2 linked regions of the Homo sapiens genome follow. The protein of the gene in region 2 purifies or fractionates together with the protein of the main gene of each other region. This does not show direct contact. Each region holds a gene or a part of one and is shown on either strand. Other genes may lie near its edges. The genes, in order: KHK and CUEDC2.

Region 1 (9,734 bases), on a different chromosome or scaffold from region 2:
CCAGGCTGGAATGCAGTGGCATGATCTTGGCTCACTGCAACCTCCGCCTCCTGGATTCAAGCGATTCTCCTGCCTCAACCTCCTGGGTAGCTGGGATTATAGGCATACGCCACCATGCCCCACTAATTTTTTTTTTCTTTTGTAGAGACAGGGCTTTTCTTTGTAAAGACATGTTGGCCATGCTGGTCTCAAACTTCTAATCTCAAGTGATCTGCCCGTCTCAGTCCCCCAAAGTGCTGGGATTACAGGCATGAGCCACCACACCCGGCTTATTGGTTCTTGTATTTCCTCTTGATAAGGGCCCCACCATTACACTGTAATGCTGTGAAGGCATTTCTGTGGGGCGGGACACTAGCTTTCTCTTGGTGCAGTCAGTGAGTGCTTAGAACACTGAGAATTGCTCCTGGGCTATATCAGTTGTCGCAGCTAAGAACTGGATAAGAGGCAGTTCAAGACTGAACTCCACAAAGACACGACAGTGCTGATGGCTGCCAGGCTAACTGAGGTGAGAGACCCCGACACTCCTCAGGCTTTGGGGCCACAAAGCACCATCACATATATTATTTTATACTCTCCTCCCAGCAGCCCATGGGAACTGTGTAAAGATCAGTGAAATCCTTTATACAGATAAGGAAGCTGAAGATTTGGAGATGTTTTTTAAGGCCACGGAGTTAAATGGTGGCACAGTGGCAGCTGCAGCTCGAGTCTCCTAGTGTGGAGTCCAGGGTCCCTGCCCTCTGTCATCTCCTGTATACCCTGTCCCTTTGCTGTTGACCATCTCTTGGAGTTGACCCTTTGCTTTGGTTTGCCAGAGGTTAGGGCCCCTTGCCAGGGGTGCAGGGACTGGGGAAGGGGCACGGGCATGCCACTGTGTAGACCTAACCCACTGTGCAAGGTCGAGGCAGCCACAGGACATGGCACTCAGTGAGGAGTTGGGTTCATCTCAGGGCAACAGTGCAAATTCCAGGGCCACAGGTTCTCCAAGGACCGTGGAGAGCCTGGGAAAAGACTCAGCGCCTCTTTCTGTCAGAGCTGAAGTCCCATTTCCTCTCAGCTTAATTCTGTCGGGAAGGTAGGAGAAGGAGGTCCTGCTAGCACCCACACTGATGGGGCAGGTTCTGAAGGTGGGCACTGAGCGAGGCACTTCTCTAAAGGGCCCCTTCCCATGTCCATCATGCTTCCTGCACTCCAGGCCATGCCTTCCCCGCAGCCCCATGGCCCTGGTTCCCTGCAGCCTGGCTCCTGAACTGTTGTGCCTCCCAGAGGAGCACATCCGAGTGGGGACCCAGTCCTTCCTGGGTGTCTCAGCCCCACCTGTCCTAGGGTCTCTGTGCTTGACAGGCAGTTGGGGACTCTTGGGAGCCGCCACCTGGAGCTCAGCCAGACCCCTGGGACGTGTCCTTTTTTTTATTTTTTGAGTTGGAGTTTTGCTCTTGTTGCCCAGGCTGGAGTGCAATGGTGCGATCTTGGCTCACTGCAACCTCCGCCTCCAGAGTTCAAGCAATTCTCCTGCCTCAGCATCCCGAGTAGCTGGGATTACAGGCATGTGCCACCACACCCAACTAATTTTGTACTTTCAGTAGAGATGGGGTTTCTCCATGTTGGTCAGGATGGTCTCGAACTCCCGACGTCAGGCGATCCGCCTGCCTCAGCCTCCCAAAGTGCTGGGATTACAGGCGTGAGCCACCGCGCCCAGCCTTTAGCTGAGCATTTCTGCACAGGAAATATCAGTGTGACTTTGAAGGGTTTCCCCAGAGTAAAATTCTATATCCTTTCTTAGAAACCTCAATGCTTGGGCCTAACAACTTTTAGTTTTAAAATACGGAGTAATTAGCAATGGCTTTGGGGTCAGGAAATTGGGTTCCCACATCAGCTTTGTCCTTAACTATTGATCAAGTCAGATCCCTCGAGATTCCTCCTTTTTTTTCATATCTTTTCGTAAAAATTTCTGTAAAGCTGTAAAGCTCAGCTTGAAAATCTTTTTTTTCTTTTTTCTTTCTTTTTTTTTTTTTTTTTTTGGAGACAAAGTCTTACTCTGTCACCCAGGCTGGAGTGCAGTGGCATGATCTTGGCTCACTGCAACCTCTGCCTCCCGGGTTCAAAAGATTCTCCTGCCTCAGCCTCCCGAGTAGCAGGGATTACAGGCACCTGCCACCACACCCGGCTCATTTTTGTATTTTTAGTAGAGACAGGGTTTCAACATCTTGGCCAGGCTGGTCTTGAACTCCTGACCTCGTGATCCACCCGCCTCAGCCTCCCAAAGTGCTGAGATTATGGGCGTGAGCCACTGCGCCCGGCCAGCTTGAAAATCTTTGACCAGCTGGGTGCAGTGGCTCATACCTATAATCCCAGCACTTTGGGAGGCCAAGGCAGGAGGATCGCTTGAGCCGAGGAGTTCGGGACCAGCCTGGGCAACATAAGAAGATGCCATCTCTACGAAAAAATTTTTTAAATTAGCGGGGCATGGTGATGCACACCTATAATCCCAGCTACTTGGGAGACTAAGGTGGGAGGATCAGTTGAGCTGGGGAAGTTGAGGCTGCAGTGAACCATGATCATGCCATTGCACTCCAGCCTGGGTGACAGAGTGACTCTGTCTCAAAAAAACAAAAAAATTACTATCCTTTGTCATTGTTGTTATTGTTGTTTTTGAGACAGGATCTCACTCTGCCACCCAGGCTGGAGTGCAGTATCATGGCTCACCCCAGCCTAAACCTCCCGGGCTCATACGCTCCCCCAACTTCAGCCTCCTGAGTAGCTGGGACCACGGGTATGCACCACCATACCCAGCTAATTTTTAATTTTTTTTTTTTTTTTAGAGACAAGAGCTCCCTTTGGTTGCCCAGGCTGGTCTCGAACTTCTGGGCTCAAGTGATCCTCCTGCTTTGGCCTCCCAAAGTGCTGGGATTATAGGCATAAGCCACTGTGCCTGTCCTACTATCATTTTTTTTCTAATGACATCGTGCTCCCCTTTTCCCAAAACTGAAGTTTCGCGTACAAATATGCTTTGGCCTAAAAATTCTGGTTCGGTTTTTTCTCTTAATTCGTGGTTCTTTGGTACTGTTCCTTTTATTGTAAACTGCCACAATTATTATTATTATTGGAACTGGCACAATAGAAATAACACCACCATTCTTACCTCAAAGGTAATAACATTCATTAATGATTTCTCATTTGGGCTCCAGTAACACTGTGAGGGGATCAGTGCGTTGACCCTCTATGTGGAAGTTATCATTTTTGCTGCTGATGACAATGAAGCCCTTCACGTGTGTCTTGTTAGTTTCCTTTTGGTTGGTTTTTAGTAAAGATGGAGAAGTGCTCCCTGCTGCCACTTCTTAAACGACCAACGTCCAGGTTTGCTGTCCTGTCTTACTCGTTTGATTTTATAGCTCTGCAGTTTCTATTGAAGTAGACACTCCTAACACAGGGGTAGGTGTAAATGTGATACCTTTGGGAAGAGGCACTTAGTCCCCGAGGTCCTTGGAGTTGCTCCAGCTCTCAAGGAGGAGGCCAAAGGTGCAGCGTCTGGAGCAGCTCTGACTGGGGTGAAAGGTGAGGAGGAGATGACCTGGAGTTAGTGGGTCTCTCGAATAGTGATGGACCCAAGTGAGTGGTTTCCTGTTGCCCTAGGAACAGATGGAAATATTGAAAGGAACTGCTGTCAGCTTGAATTTAGCCTGGGCTGGGGAGGTAGACACCGCTCTCAGCCAAGCTCCTTCCCTTGGCCGGCCTCGGCTGCCCCGGGTACAAAGTGAGACGTCGGCCTAGATGCTTTCTGAGAGGAGTCCCCAGCTGTTACATTCTGTAGGCCCCTATACAGGAGACTGTGCTTGGGATCAGCCTGCTGGGGCTGCAGGGACCCTCCCTGTGCTTTGCAGGTGTTTGTCCCAGAGATGGCAGCGCGGAGGCAACGCGTCCAACTCCTGCACCGTTCTCTCCCTGCTCGGAGCCCCCTGTGCCTTCATGGGCTCAATGGCTCCTGGCCATGTTGCTGAGTAAGTCCAGGAGGGAGAGCCCACTGGGGAAGGCCTGCCTGCATCATTGTGGGAGAAGAAGGATGTATCCACCCTGGGTGGATGGGGGATTAGAAATGGGTTGTGTCCAGCAGAAACGCGGGGAGGGGGCATGGCGGAGCACCAGACGCCCAGCCCTGCCTTGGCGTGGCCTCTCTGCGGTTCGGGGGCTGATGCTGCCCCTGTGAAGCTTTCCTTGCCACAGCTTGTTTCCTGGACACTTCTGGAGCCTGCTTCAGCCTCTTCCTTTCTCCTTCCTTGCTTCCTGCAGACTCTGCGGTGGATGTGCCTTTGCCTTATCTTAAGTCCCTTATCCTGGCCATGCTTGAGGCAGAAGGCAGTTAGGGACACGTGGTACCCATCCTCCCCCAGGTCCAGGCCCACAGTTTCTGTCCCAGTTGAGAGGCAGGGCTGGTGCTCATGTCCCTGTTGTTCACTGAAGCAGTGAGAGTACCCTGTTCAAGGACACCCTGAAGCCACATGCTAAAGCTGGGCTCAGAACCCACACCTCCCAGTTCCCCGGCTGTCAGGGCTATAGCCCTAAATGGCTCATGCACGCCCTCCATGTTGGCTGCTGCAGGGACCTCAGAGCCCTTTGACCCCTGGCGCTGCCGACTCAGCAAGCACTTATCGGGAGGTGAGGCCCACACTTTGCACACTGTGGGCACGGGGGCAGGCTGCCAGGTTGCTGGCCTGTGAAGGGCAGCCCTTTGAACCCTGGTTTGAAGGGGGCTGCTGGCAGAGTCCAACCACCTGAGCTACAGCCAAACTCCCTGCCTTGATGAACTGGCAGGAAGAGAATAGAGGGAGAGAATCTGCCCTGTGAGATGGGACAGGACGGCTCAGAACCAAGGGCTGGTGACTCATTAAACCTCTTTAATAGCTCCTTTCCTCTGAGCTAGAGGCAGGACTGTGGCTCTGGCTTAGGATGGTCGACTCTCCTTTACATAGCAATCAGGCCAATGGGTGGTTTATTCAGAATTCTCCCCATGTGCTCGACAAACATTTAGAGAGCACCTACCATGTCCCAGGCACTGGGGTGCGAAAGTTATTTGGCAAACCAAACCATATTTCCAATGCTTTGGGAAAGTTACTATTTAAAGGAGTTGTAAGTCAAGGGATGATGCCCTGACTTGGTATCTTTATGCAAATCTGTATTATCCAGCTTTGGTGTTGCTGAAAGCGGGCTCTGGCCAGGTGAGAAAAGCCAGGATGGTGGCTGGACTGCTGGGCATAATTGCCAGTTCTTGAGCACAGAACAATGCCTGTCCATAGAGGGCTGGAAGGGCTGGGGCTGACCTCCTTGTCCTTGCCCCTGGGCTCACTCTGCATGGAGGGCATTCCAGGAGAGAGTTCTGGACCAGGCCCATACTGAGTGGCATCAGGCACGGGGAGCCAGCTGATTGCCCAGGAGGGTTCACCTGGCTGCAGGAGGACAAAGCAGTGAGCTGGCTCACCAAGGCAGCACCACTTCCAGGCTGGGCCTCCTGGAGGCAGGCAGAGAGTGAGAGGAATCACAGCATTAGGACTGGGAGGGACTGAGAGAGGACAGCACCCTGGATGAGCTTGTGGAGGACAGCTGGGGGCAAAGTATTGCCTTGGAGATTAATTATTAATCCTGTTTGGGCATTGCAGGAAACAAGCCACGGTGCCCCCACATGCTTGGTTCAAACAGTGTACAGGTTCTAGGGTCCTGTCTAGCTTTATGAACAGGAGCAAATCCTTTCCAGCATGAGTTGGACTGAAAAACAGAGTCAGGATCGGAGCATGCTTCAGCCAAGACCTAAAAGGATGGCCCTTAGTGTTTCTCTCTCTGAGCTCCAGGCTCTGCACTCCTGCATCTCCTGCCCTGTTGCACTGCCTGTGGCAAGACTGTGATTCCCAGTTCTCTCCCAGCCCCCTTTGCTTGCACCCCTGCCTTTCAGGGTCCCTAGTGGCCCTGCCAGCTACCCTCCAGTCCCCAAAACCCTTGTCGAACTGCACCCCCTTCGGGTTACTCCGCCCTAGCAGTTTTGTCCTGGATGACCTCCGCCGCTATTCTGTGGACCTACGCTACACAGTCTTTCAGACCACAGGCTCCGTCCCCATCGCCACGGTCATCATCAACGAGGCCAGTGGTAGCCGCACCATCCTATACTATGACAGGTTTGTACAACTGTCTGTGCCTTGCCAGCTGCTGCCGCCGCCACCAAAACTCCCAGAACAGGACTCTTCTTCTCTTAGAGGCTCGTGTGCTCCAGCACCCTCTCCCCACTCCTTTTGGAGGTCCAGACCACTTCCAGGCTCTAATCTGTGTCTCCTTGCCCTTTTCCTGGCCCGGCCTCCACCCTAAGCTTCCTGGTGGCCGACTTCAGGCGGCGGGGCGTGGACGTGTCTCAGGTGGCCTGGCAGAGCAAGGGGGACACCCCCAGCTCCTGCTGCATCATCAACAACTCCAATGGCAACCGTACCATTGTGCTCCATGACACGTAAGGCCCCCGGGCCTCGCCCTGCTACAACCCACCAATCAGTTGGCTCAATCAGTTCCCTCACTCGCCACCATGGGCATCCCAACTGCCCCCCTCTGTGGCTTCTGTGTACCAGAAGTTGCTCCCCTGCCAAAATGTCCAGTGATTTCCTAATTGCTTTCAATTAGGGGAAAAGTGAGGTGGGAAGGGATGGGCTTTGCTGTGCCTGGTGACTTGGCCTTGGTCAACACCAAAGAAGGGCAGGCAGGCCTATATAAACTGTAATTTATTAAGTGATTCCTCCATAATTATTAAATCGTTAATCAGCAGCTTGGCTGTGGGTGCGGGGAAACTGTTCTCAGGACAGAAGGGTGGGAGATGGGATTCAACCCTTCTTAAGAAGGGCTGTGGGGGGGTGCCCACTGGGATTTCCAAAGTCAGCCCCAGAGTTGCCAGCCTGCAGCATGGCACCAAGGAGCTGGGGTTTGGGTGTGTAAAAGAGATCAGCCCCCCAAAGTTTCCAGCATGATGAAGCCAGGCCACACACCATTCACAGCCATTGCTGAAGGAGGGGAAAGGAAACATGGGGTCAGCAGATCAGGGTCATCTAACATGGTGCTGACCTGGGGGAAGGGGCTATCCCTCCCTTCAGGGTCCCAGGCCACTCAAGAGAGGCCCCATGGGCCTAGACACTTCTTATCCCTTGCAGACTCCCTCCTGCAGGATTTTAGAGGTTTAGTGTACTAAGAACCTAGTACGTGCCAGGTACTGTTATGGCTGAGAGGGCCCAAGCCCAGCAGCCCTCAGGTTCAGGCTGTTCCTACGGCCCAGCCTGACTGCCGGACCTGGAGGAGGGGCAGCCATCCCTGGGCTTCATATGTGCAGTGAGTGTGAGTAGGCAGGCATATGTGCTACAGGTGACCTTCGCATTGGGCAATCCTAGTCAAATGCTTGTTAAGCAACAATCCGTAGTAACCCTGATCAAGGACACAACATAGCTATTTACAGGAGAGGAGCTCTGAGGAGAAATGTTTCTTGCCCACTGGCCTCAGTCCAGGCACATTCACACACATTACCTGCAACTGCAGCAGGCTGCAAGGGGGCTGGGGGTTTCAGCCCCATTTATCAATGTGGAAGTTGCCTCCCAAAGGCCCGGGCAGATCACACAGCTATAGTTAAGTGGAAGGACTCGGCTACAGAACGTGGAGCGGGGACTTTGGCTGAGTTGAGGTCTCTGGCTCAGGAGGGTCAAGGCAGACCTCTATCGGGAGTCCCCTTTCCTAAACCGGCCAAACACAAACTCTTCCTCAAGTGCTACCTTGACCTCAGGGTTGCAACGGGGAGCTATTAAACGCAGGACAGGGGTGCCATAGGTAAACCCCAACGCTGGGGCGCCAGAAGTGAGGGGGACCAGACAGCCCAGGCAGGGGGTCGCGGGCTTTATACTTTCCCAGGGCTCTGCCTGTGGGAGCCGTGTGCTGCTGCAAGGGATTCTGGGAAGTGTAGGCTTGGCGCTCTCAGTGCATTCTGGGAGATGCAGTCTCCAAGGCACACAGACCTTGCCAGTTGACATGTGTTGCAGTTCAGTTTACCGAGATAATTTAATCACAACCTCAAACTCAGGAAAGGGCACCCCAGCAGACTGTAACAGGGACAACCCTGGAGCTGAGCCTGAGAATCCTGTGCTGTGGATCCAGCTTCCTGTCATGCTGCCAGCAGTGCAGGCACAGGGTCCACAGCTGCCAGTTAGAGATCCTGGCTCTGCCTGACCCCATCATGCTCCTTCTTCTCTGTCTTTTCCATCCTGTGACCTAGGAGCCTGCCAGATGTGTCTGCTACAGACTTTGAGAAGGTTGATCTGACCCAGTTCAAGTGGATCCACATTGAGGTAAGCCCTGCCTTACCTGTGTTTCAAGGGGCTCAACCTGCCAGCCTCCTCCACATGTTCTGCCTCCTTGGTTTCTTTGAATCATGAAGTACCTTAGAGATAAATGAACCCAACCCCCTCATTCTCTCTCCATCTTTCCTTATGTCTTCAGGTGAGAAAACTAAGGCCCAGAAAGATTAGATGACTTACTCAAGGTCACACAGCAGAACGTAAGCACAGCTGGCTCCAGGCAAAGTCCTGTGCTTTCTGTGCTACGGGCTGCCCCATTGCCTCCAACTCTGCCTCTGGCGGATGTCTGACTGCTTAGGGCCTGACCCATTACCTCTGGGGAAGCAGGAAGGACAGGGCCTGACTCAGCTCCCAAATAAAGGGAACTAGAGCCTTTACTCCAAGAGAGGTTTTGGAGTCTGGGTGGAAGGAAATCCTGAGAAGTCCTGAGTTCTAGCTCCATCATTTAACCTATGGTAGGTCTTTCACAGTATCTTTTATTCTTTAGTCTTCTCATCTGTGGAATGGAGTAGCTGGTTGATAAGGTCTTCAAAGTCCACGACAGCTCTGAATGTTGTAATTTAGGATGGGGTTCTAGCCCAGCCTCCCCGAGGCCCTCTCCCTCCTCACCCAGAGTTTCAGCGGGGCAGGAAGAATGAGGCAGATTGGCCAGGCAGTGCCCAGCGGTCCTGAGCTGCCCTGTCCTGTACCAGGGCCGGAACGCATCGGAGCAGGTGAAGATGCTGCAGCGGATAGACGCACACAACACCAGGCAGCCTCCAGAGCAGAAGATCCGGGTGTCCGTGGAGGTGGAGAAGCCACGAGAGGAGCTCTTCCAGCTGTTTGGCTACGGAGACGTGGTGGGTGCCCCATTCAGCCTCTCTTTGCCACTTCCAGCTAATTTGGTTCTTAAAGGGAGCCAGAATCCTTTTATCCTGCCTACCACAATTGGAATAGTGGTTCCTGGTTTGGTGGTGTTTGAAGATGGGGGATGGGGGTTAAAGCAAAGAAGTAGACCCCTAGCCTTGGGCTCCAGTGCAGGCCTCAGCAGTGAGCAAGGAGTAGAATGTCTCCACCCCAGGTGGGTGCATAGGTGTAAGAATGCCCAGAGGGCTTGGGTAGGGCTTAAACAGCCACAGGGCAAGCCTGTGTGGAAGCATCTCCTCTCTGGGGCTCCCCAGTCTTTTCCTCTGCAGAATGAGGGCACACAACTGTTCTCTGAGGTTTCTTCCAACTCAGGGGTGTCTGGCAGGTTGTGGGGGCTGCTAGGGTGAGGGAAGGGTGGGAAGGAGACTTGCATGAGTCTCTTTTTGAAAAGGCTGGATGTAAATGGAATTTGGGAAGTAATCCCAGCATCATAGCAGAAGTTGGTTGGAGACCATCCAGCCAAGGTCCTCA
Region 2 (9,665 bases):
AACTGAGGGCCATTGATGTTAACAACTTACCCAAGGCTATACCCCAAGAATGTCCCTGGGAAATTTGATTGTAATTTTCTTATCTTTTTTTTTTTCTTTTCTTTTCTTTTTTTTTTTTTTTTTTTCTTTTTGAGAGAGAGACAGGGTCTTGCTCTGTGGCCCAGGCTGGAGTGCAGTGGTATGATCTTGGCTCACTGCCACCTCTGCCTCTCAGGCTCAAGCCATCCTCCCATCTCAGCCTCCTGAGTAACTGAGACTATAGGCACGCATCACCATGCCTGGCTAACTGATCGCAGTCTTAACCTGTAGGTCAAACTGTCTCTTCATACAGGAGACAAACTCAACAAAAATGCAAGGAATATTTATTGAACAGCTACTATATGCTGGACGCTGGACTAGACCCTACAGGGCTCATGAAGAGGGGTGTGGAGGATCTGTAAGAGATCATATGCACTGTTGGGGAGTTGAGAGAGGCTTCTTGGAAAAGGCATCTGGCTGGGCACAGTGGCTCACGCCTGTAATCCCAGCACTTTGGTAGGCCAAGGCAGGCGGATCACCTGAGGTCGAGAGTTCAAGAGCAGCCTGGCCAACCTGGTGAAACCCCATCTCTACTAAAAATAAAAAATCAGCCAGGCGTGGTGGTGTGTGCCTATAATCCCAGCTACTTGGGAGGCTGAGACAGGAGAATCACTTGAACCCGGGAAGCAGAGGTTGCAGTGAGCCGAGATTGCACCACCACACTCCAGCCTGGGCAACAGAACAAGACTCCGTCTCCAAAAAAAAAAAAAAAAAAAAAAAAATTAGCCAGGTGTGTTGGCACACGCCTGTAGTCCCAGCTACTCGGGGAGGCTGAGGCAGGAGAATCACTTAAACCTGGGAGGTGGAGGTTGCAGTGAGCTGATATTGCGCCACTGCACTCCAGCCTGGGCCACAGAATGAGACTCCATCCCAAAAAAAATAAATAAAAAGGAAAAAAGAAGAGGCATCTGAGAGAGGCTTTGAAGAATGTCCAGGATTCCAACAGACAGTGACAGGCAAGAGGTGTCCCCAGGAGCACTGAGGAAGGACCAGCATGAGAAGTGTGGAGCCGGAGCAGCAGGGGTTCACTAGTGGCAGGTTATGAGCAGGATGCGATGGAAGATCAGGCGTGAAAGCTAAGTGGAGGCCGTACTATAGAAGACTTTCTGGCAGGGTAAAGAGATTTGGGAGAGCCCCTGACGTCTTTGAGCATAAGAGTAGCCCGAGTCAAAGTTATTTAAAGGTTTGGCCAGTGGGCAAGATGTGGGCCTGCAGAAGCACCTGGCTGGGAAGTTGGGAGCCCAAACCATCAGCTGCCCCACGGCCTTGGCATTGATGTTGTAGCACTGCCGGGCACCAGAACTGAGTCCACAGGGCATTGCTAGAGCTCACAGCCTATGGAATTCAGTTCTCAGTGCCAGGTGGCCAAAGTTCTTTCAGCCTGGACGCTGCTCTTGCATGCTTTCTTCTGTGAATCGTCTCCCGTTCCCAGGATGAGTAAGTTGAGGCCCAGGATGGGTCACATAAGGAACTTGTGATACCAAGAGAACTCCTATTCCAGGGAGGGTCTGAGCTTGGAGCTGAAAATGGGGGCCCACAGCTAAGGAAATGGACAGGAGTTCCATAAATTCCAACAGGAATTGGAGTAGGTTAAGAGGGGAGGGGGCTCAGGGCCATGGCAGGGATCCATCTGTCGCTTCCTGCCCAGATGTGTTCCTGGTGGGGCCTGATGTGGGGCTGGAGGGGTGAGGGGCTGGGGAAAGAGCCAGAACACGCACACTGAGAAGGGCATCTCTATGCAAACCAAGGGGCTTTCTGAGCTAAAGGGAGTCCCCAAGATATGGATCCCCAAGATAGGAGCCCAGCCCAGGAGTCCTAGCTCCCCAGAAATCTCCCCAAAACCCTGAATAAAGATTTGAAGTACCTGGGATAGTGGAGTGGAGGAGAAAGAGTTCCCTGAAGCACACTTTCATTTTCTGGAGAGTTCAGCCGAGGGCTGGGTGCTCCCCTCACTCACATGGCAAAGCTGCAGCCTATCCCAGAGAGGGAAAGCCAAGCCTGCGCCTCAGGGGCACCCCATCCCGACCCCTGCTTGAATCCAGAGAGAGGGACAGCCACTTACCCACGAAACCTCCTCTCTATGGCTCCTGGGGCTGGATCTGCAACGATGTTCTCAGCCGGTGCTCCTTAAATAAGGCCCCCACCCCCGCCCCAGCCGCCTCCCGCCCCCGCCCCATGCTGGCTCTTCTGAGAAAGGAGGAAGGTGTGGGAGGGCCAGGAACCCTGCCCAGAGAGCCCTTTCTAACCTCAAGCCAGAGCGGGACCCCGCCCCCGCCATTCTTTGAAGCCTCCCCTTCCTCACCTTGGTCTCTAACTGAGTTCTTCCCACCCCTTGAGACCAGCCCGCTGGGCTCTCTCTCTACTCTGCCTGAAAAATCTGCCCTTTATGCCAAATTCAAGTCCAGTTTCTCATTTTGAAGCAGGATGATGGGGAATGGAGGTGCTAGGGGAAGCCTCAGCGTAGGTTTCTAGCTTTTCCCACCAGCTAAGGCGATCCAGGCACCCAAACACCAGCTGCAAAATTCACTGGAAGGAATGGCGGTGAAAAGGCATCCCTCTGCCTCCTTTAGCTCTGTGCCGCTTCAAGCAGTACCAAAGGGCAGTGGGGAGTCTGTTCCCATTTTGGGGAGAGAGAGACTGAGACCTGAGGGGAAAGAAAATCAGGGGCTGAAGTTCCAGCCAGCTTCAGAATCCCTCAGGGCAGGGATCCCGGGAGCCCCTACCTTACAGTATGTGTGTGTCCTTGTGTCTGTGGGGTTCCCTCTCCTCAGCCCACCTTCTGTCCTCGACCCCCCAGAACTTGACTCCTGCTGCACAGAGCTGGGACTCCCCAGAGTTTGAGTTGGGAAAGGAGGGACTCCCCCTAAGAAGTCTTTTCCATCCTCCTCCCTTGAAAGCTCAGGAAGTTCTTTCTGATACCAAGTCACATGCAGCTGCCATCCAGCAAACAGGGGATAGGGGAGAGGGGAAGGCACACAGTCAGAAATGGCTTGCAGGGGTCTTGGGCCAGAACTCAGGGCAGCTCTACTGAGGAAACTTGAAAGTTCCGGGAATGGAGGGTGGTAGGGAGAGAAGAGTCATCAGTATTGTGCAATGGACAGGGGGAAGCAGGAAAGGGGACGGGGGAGGAAAGGGATGGCTGGTCTCTGGAGGACAGGCAAAGGCCTGGGGCTGTGGGCTGCCCATCACCCCCTTCCTAGGGGCCTGCCCGGCCAGAGTTCAAAGTCGCTGTCACCCCACCCCTCATTAACCCTAGTATCACCAGGCTGGAGTGGCAGTGTTTTTATGGGCAAAGCGACGCGAATGTGCCCCTTCCTTCCCTGCTACCTCCCCCAAGCAGCCAACATCTTGCTGTCTCTGAGGCCAGAAGAGGAAGGAGGCTGTTGTGAGGACCAGAGGTGGAAGAGAAAGCAATAAGCAGTCATCCCGTTTTCTCCATAGTTTCTTCTTCTTCCTTCTCCTTCTTTTCTTCTTCTTTTTTTTTTTTTTTTTTTTTTTTGAGACAGGGTCTTGCTTTGTCACTCAGGCTGGAGTGCAGTAGCACAATCACGGCTTACTGCAGCCTTGACCTCTGGGGCTCAAATGATCCTCCCACCTCAGTCTCTGGAGTAGCTGGGACTACTGGCGTGTGTCACCATGCCCAGATAATTTTTTATTTTTTAAATTTTTTGTAGAGACGAGGTTTTGCCATGTTGCCCAGGCTGGTCTCAAATTCCTGGGCTCAAGCGATCCTCCCACCTCAGCCTTGCAAAGTGCTAGAATTACAGGTGTGAGCCACTGCAGCATAGTATCTTGGCACTGCCTTAGTCCCTAGGAGAGAGGAAAGATGGGACTTCTCTCTTGGACTGTGAGCTCCCTGAGGGCAGGGACAGCTTCCGGGTCCCCAGCACCCCACGAAGGAACTAGCACTAAAAAGGGCTCATCCCTGCTGATGGGGGATGGGAAATTTTATCCTTGAAGGGGACTCTTCCCCTTGTGACCCATTTCAGGGTTCCCAAGAGGGGAGGGCTGTGGGGCTTCCCCACAGGGCAGCACCGGGAATCTGTGGCAGCAGGAACAAAAAGAGGAAGTTGAAGTCTTGTTGGGCCCTGGAGTTCAGCTCTCCTGTCCTAGACAAGCAGCCCTGCCAACATGGGGGATGAAGGCCCCGGGGGGTAGGCATGGTCTACAGGCTGTCCATGACAGGGCTCAGGTGGATCCTCATCCTGGCACCTGCTACCACTCCACCTCTCCCAGACCACGTCCAAAATCCCAGGCTCCACCCTCCGGAGACACAGACCTGTAGCTCACCCCAATCTAGGGGAGACATTGCTGTTAAGGGAATGCAAAAGGTACAGACAGGGTGGGGAAGTCAGTACCTAAGAGACCAGCCTGGGCCACGTGGCAAAAACCCTGTCTCTACAAAAAAAAAAAAAAAAAAAAAAATTAGCTCGGCGTGGTGGCACGCGCCTGTGGTTCCAGCTACTCCAGAGGCTGAGATGGGAGGATCACTTGAACCCAGGAGGTCGGGGCTGCAGTGAGCCATGTTCGCACTCGTGAACCTGCACTCCAGCCTGGGGCTGTAACAGCAAGAAAAGAAGAAAAAGAAAGAGAAGGAAGGAAGGGAGGGAGGGAAAGAAAGGAAAATAAAGAAAGAAGAAAAGAAAAGAGGCCAGGCGCGGTGGCTCATGCCTGTAATCCCAGCACTTTGGGAGGCCGAGGCAGGCGAATCACGAGGTCAGGAGTTTGAGACCAGCCTGGCCAACATGGTGAAACCCCGTTTCTACTAAAAATACAATAAATTATCTGGGCGTGGTGGCGCGCGCCTGTAATCCCAGCTACTCGGGAGGCTGAGGCAGGAGAATCTCTTGAACCCGGGAGGCGGAGGTTGCAGTGAGCCGAGATCGCGCCACTGCACTCCAGCCCGGGAGACAGTGCGAGGCTCCCTCCCAAAAAAAAAAAAGAAGAAGAAAAGGAAAAAAAAGTGAGAGAGAGAGAGAGAGAGAGACGAGAAAAAGAGAGAGAGAAAGAAAGAGAAAGGTTTCGGGTCTCTGACGGATGAGAAGGAACAAGACGGGGATGCAGTCCTACCCACTTCGACTCCACCCCCTCTCAAGACCTTCACGCCTAACGCCTCCCTACGCGCAACAAAACTGGCCGCCAAGGGAGCCCGTCCATAGCCCTGGGACGTTAGAGAATTAGAGCAGGAGCTCCGCCCTGTTGTGGGCAACTTGCCCTTCTCAAACATGGCCGCCACGGCGCCTCTGGAAGGGAACCGCTCTGGGCCCCGCCTTTGATCTCGTTGGTGGGGCTGGGGGATGAGAGCTGCACCGCGCGGGACAAGTCGCCGGCGGCGCCCGACGGAGCAGGTGATTTCCCCTCCTGCCCCCGGCCCAGGGCTAGGAGAGTCGCGGAGAGCGCTGACCCAGGGTACCCGTCCGATGTGTTCCCCCACGGTACCCCCCCCGGGGCCCGTCGGACCCCCATCTCTGATTCTCGCCGTGGCCTGTATCAAGGCACATCCAGTTTGCTCAGGCCTGCCTCGTCATGTGTCCTCCAAGGCCACAGCCGCATCCCTGTGCCTTCGGGCCCACTATTCTGGACGCTTACGGGTGTCCCGCTAGCGGGTTTAGGGAGCTGCTGCTTCAGGGGTCGTCCATCATCGCGGTCCCACTTCCTGTGCTCGCCCTCCCTGTTTGTGCTCCCGCCTGACTTTGGATGCAGGGATCCCTTGTTCCCCTCAATGCCCTTGGTGCCTCTAAGGTCTGACTTGGGTATCAGAGGACAATGATATCCTCTGGGGCCTGCGTTATGGGTCCAGGGCCTCAGGAACCGGGCTTCACAGGGGCTGGGAGAAGCAGTGAAGACCTTCCATGCTAGACCCCTTGCTGCCTCCCTGAGAAGTTCGCTAGGACTCCTTTCACACTAGCTCCCAGGATTCCTCCTCCCACATGGCCTGCTCTCCCTCCACTTTAAGCACCTCCCCACCCCAAGGGAGCAGCATAGTACTTCTTACCCCACTCTCACTTAAATTTGTCCACAGTGTCTCTATCTAGCATCTGGAGGGTCCAGGCCTGTGCTGCCCTTGGGAAGCTCCCAGGCTAGCTGGGAGCAGTGAAGGTGGGGCAGTTAGGGTTGGCTGCAGAAAGGGAGTCCTGCAGAATGAGATTTGGAGAGGCAGAGGGACAGATGCTCTGGGCTGGGAGAGTGGTGTGAGCAAAGATTCTGAAATAGACAATATAGCCAGCCAGGCAGGAGAGGAGATTCAGAATATAGGATGGGGCCACACAATTTGCATCGTGAGAGGTGATGTAGTGTGGTGGTTAACAGTGAGGGTTCTGGATCCAGACAGCCTGGGTGTAAATCTGCCATTAACTTGCCTTGTGACCTTGGGCAAGTTACTTAACCTCATAGTGCCTTCATTTCCTTTCAGGTAAAATGTGGATAATACGGCCGGGCGCGGTGGTTCATGCCTGTAATCCCAGCACTTTGGGAGACCGAGGCGGGTGGATTGCCTGAGGTCAGGAGTTCGAGACCAGTCTGGCCAACATGGTGAAACCCCGTCTCTACTAAAAAATACAAAATAAATTTGCCAGGCATGGTGGCATGCGACTGTAATCCCAGCTACTCAGGAGGCTGAGGCAGGGGAATTGCTTGAACCAGGGAGGTGGAGGTTGCAGTGAGCTGAGATCGCACCACTGCACTCCAGCCTGGATGGCAGAGCGAGACTCCGTCTCAAAAATACATAAATAAATAAAATAAATAAAATAAAATGGGGAGAATAACAGTATCTACATTTTAGAGTTATTGTAAGGATTAGGTAAGTTAATACATGTAAAAGTGCTTAGGACAATGCCTCGTAAGCAGAGGCAATAAATGCTAATATTACCATCATCGGAGGCATTTAGGCAGGACTCATGACAGGATGACAGTCACATTTGGTAGACACCATCAACCAATGATCTCTAATTTGCGGCCCCCAAGAAGCAATGGGGTTCTGTGGGCTACATCTGGAATTTGAAATGTCTCATGGAAATCATGTTCTTACCCTGGAGAAGGGTGGCTGCTTAGGTGCTACTTAGGAAACCAGTCTGGCAGACCAGATCTTCCCCAACTCAGGGGCTATGCGGGGAGAAGTATTAGGAGCCCCTGAGCAGGAAGGATGTACTTAGGAAGGCTACCGGGGATGGGGAAGGGTAAAAGAGCTTAGAAGCCTGGGTGAAGTTTGGGTAGACCAAAAACAGGAGGAGGGAGGGAGGATGTTCCCTTGGAATACAAACTAGAGAAAAGCTTAGGGGAGCAAGTCTTTTTATTTGGGGACAGTGAAGAGTTTCCTAAAAATTCCCTGGCCCCCAGGCCTTGGCTAAAAACCCAGAAGCATGAGACACATCCCTGAGAAGCTTCTTCCCTAGAAACTGGGCTCTCAGGCCGGGCACGGTGGCTCACGCCTATAATCCCAGCACTTTGGGAGGCCTAGGCGGGCAGATCACCTGAGGTCGGGAGTTCGAGACCAGCCTGACCAACATGGAGAAACCCTGTCTCTACTAAAAATACAAAATTAGCCGAGCATGGTGGCACATGCTTGTAATCCCAGCTACTCAGGAGGGCTGAGGCAGGAGAATCGCTTGAACCCAGGAGGTGGAGGTTGCGGTGAGCCAAGATCGCGCCATTGCACTCTAGCCTGGGCAACAAGAGTGAAACTCTGTCTCAAAAGTAAAATAAATAAATAAATAAATAAATAAATAAAATTAAAAAAAAAAAAAGAAAACCTGGGCTTTCAGCCAAGTTTCAGTCACCACCACACAGGTGGCTCATGCCTGTAATCCCAGCACTTTGGGAGGCCAAGGTGGGCAGATCACCTGAGGTCAGGAGTTCGAGACCAGCCTGGCCAACATGGTGAAACCCCGTCTCTACCAAAAATACAAAAAATTAGCTGGGCGTTGTGGCAGGCGCCTGTAATCCCAGCTACTCAGGAGGCTGAGGCAGGAGAATTGCTTGACCCTGTCAGGTTCACACCATTGCACTCCAGCCTGGGCAACAAGAGCGAAACTCCGTCTCAAAAAAAAAAAAAAAGAAAGAAACTGGGCTTTCATGCAGCAGCCATGGGCCTTTGTCCCGGCAGAGGCTACCATGCAACTGACAGCCCAGGATTCGAGGGTGATGTAACCCAGGGTCGAGGTAGGTCCCTGGAGGCGGTTCTACCCTGAGGGAGCTGCATGATGGGATCTAGTATGCCTGGGCTGAGCCATTCTGCTCTTCCTCAGGGCCCATGAGGGCTCTGGCGCAGGTGGTATGAATTCCCCTGGTAGGCTGGGGCTTCTCAGTCCTGCTTTCCAAAGTGACCCCTGTGCTATGAGCAACTCTGTTACCACTCGGGACCAGGCAACTGTAAGCATAGAAGGTAGCCCTGTCCCAACCCACTTGAAAGTCTTGATATCCTCCCTTCCCCAGAGTAGCCCCTAGAATAGATGCTGAACTAGGTGACCTGGATTTAAATCTGACTACCGCAGTCAAGCCAGGTGACTCTGGGCAAGTCATTAAACACACTGAACTTCATTTCTTCATAGGTAAATTGGGGTTCAACTGTTTATTGAGTGCCCACTTCATGAGAGATGCTGAGTATACACTGGTGAATGTCAGCCCGGTGTTTAGTCCCTGCTTCATGAGACAACTGGAAGAAACATTAAACATTGTCCAAATAATAATTATGGCTGTGAAAGGTGCTGCTAGTCAGAAAACTTGCAGCCTGCATAGAGAGTGTAATATGGCAGGGCCCAAATGAGTTCTAGGTCAGGGGTGATGTCCCTTGAGGAAGAAGGGAATTATTTTATTTTTATTTGAAAATATTTTTCTTTTCTTTTTTTTTTTTTTTTGAGACAAAGTCTCACTCTGTCGTCCAGGCTGGAGTGCAGTGGTGCAATCTCGGCTCACTGCAACCTCCGCCTCCCAGGTTCATGTCATTCTCCTGCCTCAGCCTCCTGAGTAGCTGGGACTACAGGCGCGTGCCACCACACCCAGCTAATTTTTGTATTTTTAGTAGAGACGGGGTTTCACTGTGTTAGCCAAGATGGTCTTGATCTCCTGACCTCGTGATCCAACCCCCTGGGTCTCCCAAAGTGCTGGGATTACAGGCATGAGCCTCCGTGCCTGGCCTAAAAATATTTTTCTACAAAAAGAGAGATGGGGTCTTGATATGTTGCCGAGGCTGGTCTTAAACTCCTGAGCTCAAACGATCCTCTTGCCTCAGCCTCCCAAAGTGCTGGAATTACAGGCATGAGGCACCGTGCCCAGCCAAGGAAGGGAATTTTAAAATGAGACCCAAAAGATCAGAGTGACAGTAAGTGAAGGGGTGGAGGCAGAAGGGTGCCCAGGCAGAGGAAATAGTTTGTGTACCCTAGCACCTAGAAAAATGCCCGTGCTGGCTAGGTGCTCAATACATACTTGTTGACATGTTCCATTCCCATCTACATGCTTTTAACTCCCAAAAGTCTGTTTGGGAGTCAGGAGCATGTGGGTGGTAATGAATGGCTCCAGACCCATAGGTCCAAATGGCAGCTCATTGTCCCACTCAGATGATGAGGCAGAAGGCTCAGAGGGTATACTACCTT

Evidence for each region.
Region 1: the proteins of CUEDC2 (region 2) and KHK purify together in Homo sapiens (affinity purification with mass spectrometry; 2 studies listed by BioGRID and IntAct, with this or other methods). This does not show direct contact.

The regions. Positions count from the first base shown.
Region 1 is NC_000002.12:27,088,454-27,098,187, forward strand, and holds part of KHK (ketohexokinase), read left to right. Parts: intron 1-3,878; coding exon 3,879-3,995; intron 3,996-6,020; coding exon of another isoform or gene 6,021-6,158; intron 6,159-6,346; coding exon 6,347-6,481; intron 6,482-8,275; coding exon 8,276-8,348; intron 8,349-9,049; coding exon 9,050-9,196; coding exon of another isoform or gene 9,197-9,610; exon of another isoform or gene 9,611-9,625; intron 9,626-9,734. UniProt on the Homo sapiens protein: Catalyzes the phosphorylation of the ketose sugar fructose to fructose-1-phosphate.
Region 2 is NC_000010.11:102,428,287-102,437,951, reverse strand, and holds the start of CUEDC2 (CUE domain-containing protein 2), read left to right. Parts: upstream 1-5,377; 5' UTR 5,378-5,426; intron 5,427-9,665.